2 linked regions of the Homo sapiens genome follow. Changing the gene in region 1 together with any one later gene gives a genetic interaction. Each region holds a gene or a part of one and is shown on either strand. Other genes may lie near its edges.

What was found. Genes that interact genetically often act in the same process or in processes that back each other up.
Region 2: changes in COPE (region 1) and METAP2 together harm fitness more than expected from each alone (negative genetic interaction), as found in Homo sapiens cells (one large-scale study listed by BioGRID).

The regions. Positions count from the first base shown.
Region 1 is NC_000019.10:18,905,888-18,909,387, forward strand, and holds part of COPE (coatomer subunit epsilon), read right to left. Parts: intron 1,226-3,500; coding exon 1,073-1,225; intron 49-1,072; coding exon of another isoform or gene 1-48. UniProt on the Homo sapiens protein: The coatomer is a cytosolic protein complex that binds to dilysine motifs and reversibly associates with Golgi non-clathrin-coated vesicles, which further mediate biosynthetic protein transport from the ER, via the Golgi up to the trans Golgi network.
Region 2 is NC_000012.12:95,508,652-95,512,151, forward strand, and holds part of METAP2 (methionine aminopeptidase 2), read left to right. Parts: intron 1-3,243; coding exon 3,244-3,347; intron 3,348-3,500. UniProt on the Homo sapiens protein: Cotranslationally removes the N-terminal methionine from nascent proteins. The N-terminal methionine is often cleaved when the second residue in the primary sequence is small and uncharged (Met-Ala-, Cys, Gly, Pro, Ser, Thr, or Val).

The DNA.
Region 1 (3,500 bases):
TCCATGGGCTGTGCTTCCAGATGGAGGGCCCTGCCCGGACTCGACACCCTGGAGGCATCAACACTCAGGAACAAGGCCCTAGAGGAGGGCCACGCACCCGCCCCTGCACCTGCACCTGCAGCAGAGCCCTGGGGCCACCCACTCTCTGCAGGCCCCCTCGTCCCCTCATCCCTCTCAGCCCCAGGTGGCTGTGACCACGAATTACTCGTGAGGCCTCTTGTTCTTGTTTTCCTGCCAACAGGAGCCAGCACCTGGACCAGCACCGAGTCGGCCGGCTCGCCGACAGTGTGACATCCCTATTTATTTTCTTTTTTGTGTGTGAGTCAGGGTCTGGCTCTGCCACCCAGGCTGGAGTGCAGTGGCACCATCACGGCTCACTGCAGCCTCCACCTCCCAGACTCAAGGGATACTCCTGCTTCCGCCTCCCAAGTAGCTGGAAACATAGGTGCATGTCACCATGCCTGGCTCGCCCTGCAATTCTAAGCCCTCTGTGGATGGAGGTGGGATGGGAGCAGATCCACAGCGACCATGAAATGCCCAGCTTGCAACTCACAGTGGAAGGCAGGCACTGCAGGGACAGCTCACGGGGAAGAACTGACACACTTTCTGTGACCAGTGCCCTGGACATGGCCCGGAGTCACATCCTAGGGTGGAGGGGGGCACCAACCTTGCAGGGCTTCAGCACCCCAACCCCAGAGGGCCCTGGAGGAGGGCCGGTATGGGGGGCCCGGGGAGGCCTGAGAGACTGGGCCCAGGGCCGAGACACAGAAGGCTTCGTGGGGGGTGGGGACACAGAAACCGAGCAGAGACAAAGCCGCTTTCTGCTCTGCCCTTGGGAACAGAGGGTTGCAGCCTGGGCACCGTGTCCTTGGATCTGCAGCCTGGTGCGCAGATGGGAGTGCCTCCCACACTGGGCAGGGGAGCTGGAGCCTGGACAGCAGGCCAGGGCCTCATTTCAGCACCACCTTTCTCTGCTCCCATGACGACAGCCAGCGAGGCCGTGCGCAGCCTGGAGATGTGGCAGGGGGCACTTGCCTCCCTGGGCTGGCCCCAGAGCAGGGAGGCCACTCACCACTCCAGGCTGTCCCCCTGGTGCAGCGCACGCAGGGCGGCATCCGGGTTCTGGTCGTGGAGATAGATGGAGGCGGCCATGAGCAGGAAGGTGGTGTTGGTCACGTCCACGCTCCTGCTCATCTCTCGGTCCAGCTCGGCCACGATGCTGTCCCTGCAAGACAGAGATGCTCACGACCCACAGCTGGGGTGGCCTCTGTGGGACCTCAGAGGGTCCCCTTCCTTGGAAGCAGACAGGTCCAGAGAGGGTGAGCCAGGCCCTGGGGGTGCAGAGCAGCAGCAGGCCGAGCATCGAGCTGTCCCGACATGTCCTCCCTCCGTTCCTATGAAGCACCTCTCATGCTGGGCCAGGCAAGGACCCGAGGCCGGGAGATGTGGGGTGGGGCGCTCCAAGGGGACATGAGGAGGCACCGTCAGTCTCACACCAACCTCACCCGCCTTCCTGAGGAGGCTGGTGGGCCCAGCTGGGACTCCTGACCATAACCCATCAACCCTGTGGGCTTCAAGGCCACGTCTTCTAGCAGGAGGTCGGCCTGGGTGCCGAGGGGCCGTGCAGAAGGATGGGAGCCCTGGGGCACCCCCACTGCCAGGGCAGCTGCCCTCAGTCCCTGAGAGCCCAGGGTGCTGGCTGCACCCTGAAGATGGCCAGTGTGCTGCGGGCCAGGGCCAGGCTTGAGCCCAGGCAAGGCTGAGGACCGGCTCAGCTCCGAGGGCACAGGTCACCCATGCCTCCATGTCCCTAACTGGACCCAGACCCTCCATTCCCCATGGCTATTGAGCAGCTAAAAAGAGAAGGCAGGTGAGGGGGCCACCCTAGACCAAAGCTGGTGTTCTTCTGGGTTCAAACGTGGCTCTGTGACCCCGTAAGCATCCACGCGCATCTGGGGGCTGTCTGCCCAGGGCCCGTGTCTGAGGTGTCACTGAGGGCATGGCATGTCTGATACCAACCAGGCTCCACTGAGGGCTCGCCACAGTGCCAGGTCCAACAGACAAGTGACTTCAGGTCTGAGTCTGTTTCCCCGTGCTGAGGGACCATGTTACAGGGATCATGCAGGGGAGGAGCAAGGAGCTCCCAAGACCATCTTACAAAGCTTCCTGAGGCTCCAGCACACAAGGGTGTATAAACACTGCCAGTTGTCGTAGCGTTGGTACTGTAATGTTGTCATCCTAAGGTGTTACAATTACCAATGGGGCCGGGTACTGTGGCTCACACCTGTAACCCCAGCGCTTTGGGAGGCCAAGGCAGGATCGCTTAAGCCCAGGAGTTCAAGACCACCCTGGGCAACATAGTAGGACCCCTTTTTCTACAAAAAAGTAAGAAAGTCAGCTGGGCCTGGTGGCGCCTGTAGTCCCAACTACTTGGGAGGCTGAGGCAGGAGGATGGCTTCAGCCCGGGAGGTTGAAGCTGCGGTGAGCTGTGGTCACACCTCTGCACTCCAGCCTGGGTGACAGAGGGAGACCATCTCAAAAACAAGCAACAGCAACAAAATCAATTACTGGGCGGATCGCTTGAGCCCAGGAGTTTGAGACCAGCCTGGGCAACATGGCAAAACCCCATCTCTCTTTTTTTTTTTTTGAGACGGAGTCTCGCACTTTCGCCCAGGCTGGAGTGCAGTGGTGCGATCTTGGCTCACTGCAAGCTCCGCCTCCCGGGTTCATGCCATTCTCCCGCCTCAGCCTCCCGAGTAGCTGGGACTACAGGCACCCGCCACCATGCCCGGCTAATTTTTTTTGTATTTTTAGTAGAGATGGGGTTTCACGTGTTAGCCAGGATGGTCTCCATCTCCTGACCTCGTGATCCGCCCGCCTCGGCCTCCCAAAGTGCTGGGATTACAGGTGTGAGCCACTGCGCCCGGCCAGGCAAAACCCCATCTCTAAAAAATATACAAATTAGCCAGGCATGGTGATGCGTGCCTGTAGTCCCAGCTATTCGGGAGGCTGAGGTGGGATGATCACTTGAGCCTGGGAGATCAAGGCTGCAGTAAGCCAAGATTGTGCCACTGTATGCCAGGCTGAACGACAGAGCAAGACCGTATCTCAAGAAAACAAAATCAAAACCAAAACCAATTACTAATGGATGCTCCTTGTCCCCGGGGCGTCCTGCCAATGAGGTCGCGGCTGTGCAGCCAGATGAACGGACCACAAGCCCCTGCCTGGACCGCCTGCTCTCCGGGGCTGCTTTTCTGTGATGCTCACAGCAGCTGCTGCTCCTGGGGGACCCAGGGTTCCCTGCCTTCACTCCAGCTGGTGAAGTAAGTGCAGGGTGGGAGAAACAGTGGCCCTGGGAGGTCACCTGTCTCAATGTCCTGGAGCTGCTGTGGCAAAGCACCACAGCCCGGGCAGTTAAGGACAACAGGGATTCGTTCCTCACAGCTCTGGAGGCCGTAAGTCTGAAGTCAAGGTGGCGGCAGGGCTGGCTCCAGCTGGAG
Region 2 (3,500 bases), on another chromosome or scaffold:
CTCTTTTTCCTTTCATTTTCTCCTAATTCTACAACTTGTTTGGTATGTGGTCTGCCTTTCAAGGTATGGTAGGTGACAGTTTGACTTAATGTTTTAGTCACTGCATAATAATTCCAGCCTGCAACATCGGGATTTTTAATATCTACCCTTTTACCTCTTCCATTAAGCTAGTGCAGCATTTTTGGTTTCATTATTTCAGTACCCCTCTTTTGATCCCTGTTATTTTATTGATCAGTGTTCTTAGTTTAAGGCAACAATCCATTTTTATAGTTTAAGCAGAGAGGATGTGGAAAAATCATGATAATAGGGAGATGAAGAAATGGATTCCGGGTTGAACTTTCCAGAACAAATCAAAACACATAGCACAAACGGGCCATCAAAGGAGTATCTTAATCTCCTTTGATCAGGAAGCAATAGAATTAAAAAGTGATTGTTAACAAATTACTGGTCCCAGAATTAGCCTGTGCTGTTACAACCTGCATAAGTAAAAAATGAATTCCCCTGTACCCTCATTTTTCTGTGTAACTAACATATTAGGTTGGTATGGCTAAGAAACTTTCTTTAAAAAAATTGATTGGCTTGTAAGGGTCAGTCTGCAAAGTTTGAATTTTAAAATAAGCTTGTTACTTGTCAACCTAAATAACAAACAGAGGCTCTCTAAAAGAAAATGATGTTTGGGAATAGAGCATTGCAGTGGGAATGCCATAGTAAACTTGTGCATATTCAGGGAGGTAAGGAAGACAGAGGTTTTTGAAGACGAAAATGAGGATGACATAATTGTTTTGAAATAATTATCCTTGGCTCCAAAGATTAATAACAAAAGTGACGCCAGTCGGAGGTTGGGCAGGCAGTTGTTGGGCAGATGTCCTTGCAGAAGTATTTTTTTGTGTAAGGTTGCAGTGGGCTTTGTGCAAGGTTATGGTTTTCATAGTCATTTTCATTATCAGGTGTATAAGCATGAGAACCCTCTCTTCATGGCTTTCCCTAGCTCTGTTTGAGTCTGACAACTTTGACACATTTATATAAGAAGGTTGTTGTGAAGAGTGAATTGATTTGTTTTTCTTGCTGTCCCACTAAGTTTGTAACATACTTGTTCATTGCTTCAGACTACTTAACTCTGCTCTAGAAGAAAGGTAGCTCATACTGAGGATTCTAGAGTTATAGAGTTAAATTTTTTTAAGACCTCCCCCCCAACCTTTTTTTTTTTTTTTTTTTGAGACTCTGTCGCCCAGACTGGAGTACAGTGGTGCAGTTTCATTTCACTGCAGTCTCTGCCTCCCGGGTTCAAGTGACTCTCCTGCCTCAGCCTCCCAAATAGCTGGGACTACAGGTGTGTCACCACGCCCAGCTAATTTTTATATTTTTAGTAGAGATGGGGTTTCACTGTGTTGGCCAGACTGGTCTTGAACTCCTGACCTCAAGTCATCCACCTGCCTTGGCCTCCCAGAGTGTTGGGATTACAGGCGTGAGCCACTGCACCTGGCCGTTTTTAGCCCTTTTTTAAAATTTGAAATATTAACACAAAATGCACAAAGCATAAAAACTCAGCTTCTCAATTGCAGAAGCTACGTAACCTCACTCCTCAAGAAATTGAATATTGCCAGTATTCCAGAAGACGCTCAGTCTCATTTTCTTAGTCCGTTTTGTGCTGCTACAGCAGAATACCTGAGACTAGGTAATTTATAAAGAACAGAAATTGATTTCTCACAGTGTTGGAGGCTGGGAAGATTGAGGGACTGGCATCTGGTGAAGGTCTTCTTGCTGCATCATCCTATGGCATTAGGCAGAAGGGCAATGAGAAGTTTGAGAGAGAGAGCAAGAAATGGTCAAACTTGTCCTTTACAGGGAACCCACTCCTGAGATAATGGCTTGAATTCATTGATGAGAGTGGTGCCTCCATGGCCCAAACTCCTCCTGTTAGGTCCCACCTCCCAACACCATCACACTGGGGATGAAATTCCCAATACATGACCTTTGGGGGATACATTCAAACCATAGCAGCAATACACTGCTTTCCAATTACAGCAGCCTGCCTCTAGTGAGCCACCATCTTGGCTTGTGGGGTCAGTTTGCCAGGTCTTAGAGAAATAGTAATGATGTCTGAATTTTAAAATATATTTAGCTTATCAGCACTGCAAGTATGAAAGGATTTTCATTTGCTTTTCTTTATGTCTTTACTACCTAATTATGCATCCCTAAACTAGTTTTATTGCCTAATTTTGAACTATTATATATATGTGGAATTGTACAGTATATATGTAATTGTGCCTTTTTCTGCTCATTTTGTCAGTTTTAAAACAACTGGAATAAAAAAGCTAGACGTTTTATTCCAGTTGTTAAATGTATTCCTAGCTTTTTGTTTTGATTGTTGAATGTTATTCCCTCGTGAATATGCCACAATTTGTCTATTCTGTCCTTGCTGTCATGACAGTGGGATGTTTAGATTTTCTTTCTTCTTTCTTACTTCTATTTCTTAATTACTGTGTCTCAGCCACATAGGTTTTCTTTTTGAACATTTGAAATGTTGATATAAAGTTTTATAATACTGTCATATTAACAGTATCTTTCACATTATCTTTTGGTCTGTAACAATACAAATATGTATTTTTTATGTTTCTAATAATTTGTGTACATGGCATTTTATTTGTTGTTAACAGTACCTCCTTATACCTCCTTAGATGACCTCCCTTGTGCCCTTAATCCTGTATTTCTTTCTTCCATCCTCCCTTCTAGCACCGTTTTTTTTTTTTTTTTTTTTTTTTGAGACGGAGTTGCTTTCGCCCAGGCTGAAGTGCAGTGATGTGATCTTGGCTCACGGCAACCTCCGCTTCCCGGGTTCAAGTGATTCTCCTGCCTCAGCCTCCTGAGTAGCTGGAATTACAGGCCCCCACCACCACACCCAGCGAATTTTTGTATTTGTAGTAGAGACAGGGTTTCGCCATGTTGGTCAGGCTGGTCTCGAACTCCTGACCTCAGGTGATCCGCTTGCCTCGGCCTCCCAGAGTGCTGGGATTACAGGCATGAGCCACTGCACCTGGCCTACTTCTAGTATTAATAACACTGCAACTACTTTTTATATTCCACTAGATTCCAGTTTATATTAAACTACCTTAATGTAAGGTTATTTAGTAAAGCCATACCTGGTTTTTGAATAAATGCTTGAACTCTGTACCAAAATGTAAGAGATCTGTTTTTGCTTCTTGAGATCCTGAATGACTTTTATTTCCCTATTTTTTATAACAGTGAAACCAATCCGTAATCTAAATGGACATTCAATTGGGCAATATAGAATACATGCTGGAAAAACAGTGCCGATTGTGAAAGGAGGGGAGGCAACAAGAATGGAGGTATGTGTGTCACTAACATTTTACTTCCATGGAAGACATTTTTTTCTTCCAAGCAGAAGGTCATGGTAGTTAAATATATGGTTATACTGACCAGAATTAGCTGCTTATCATCCATATTCACCCTGCCAGGAATTGGGCCATTTGAATTTGCAA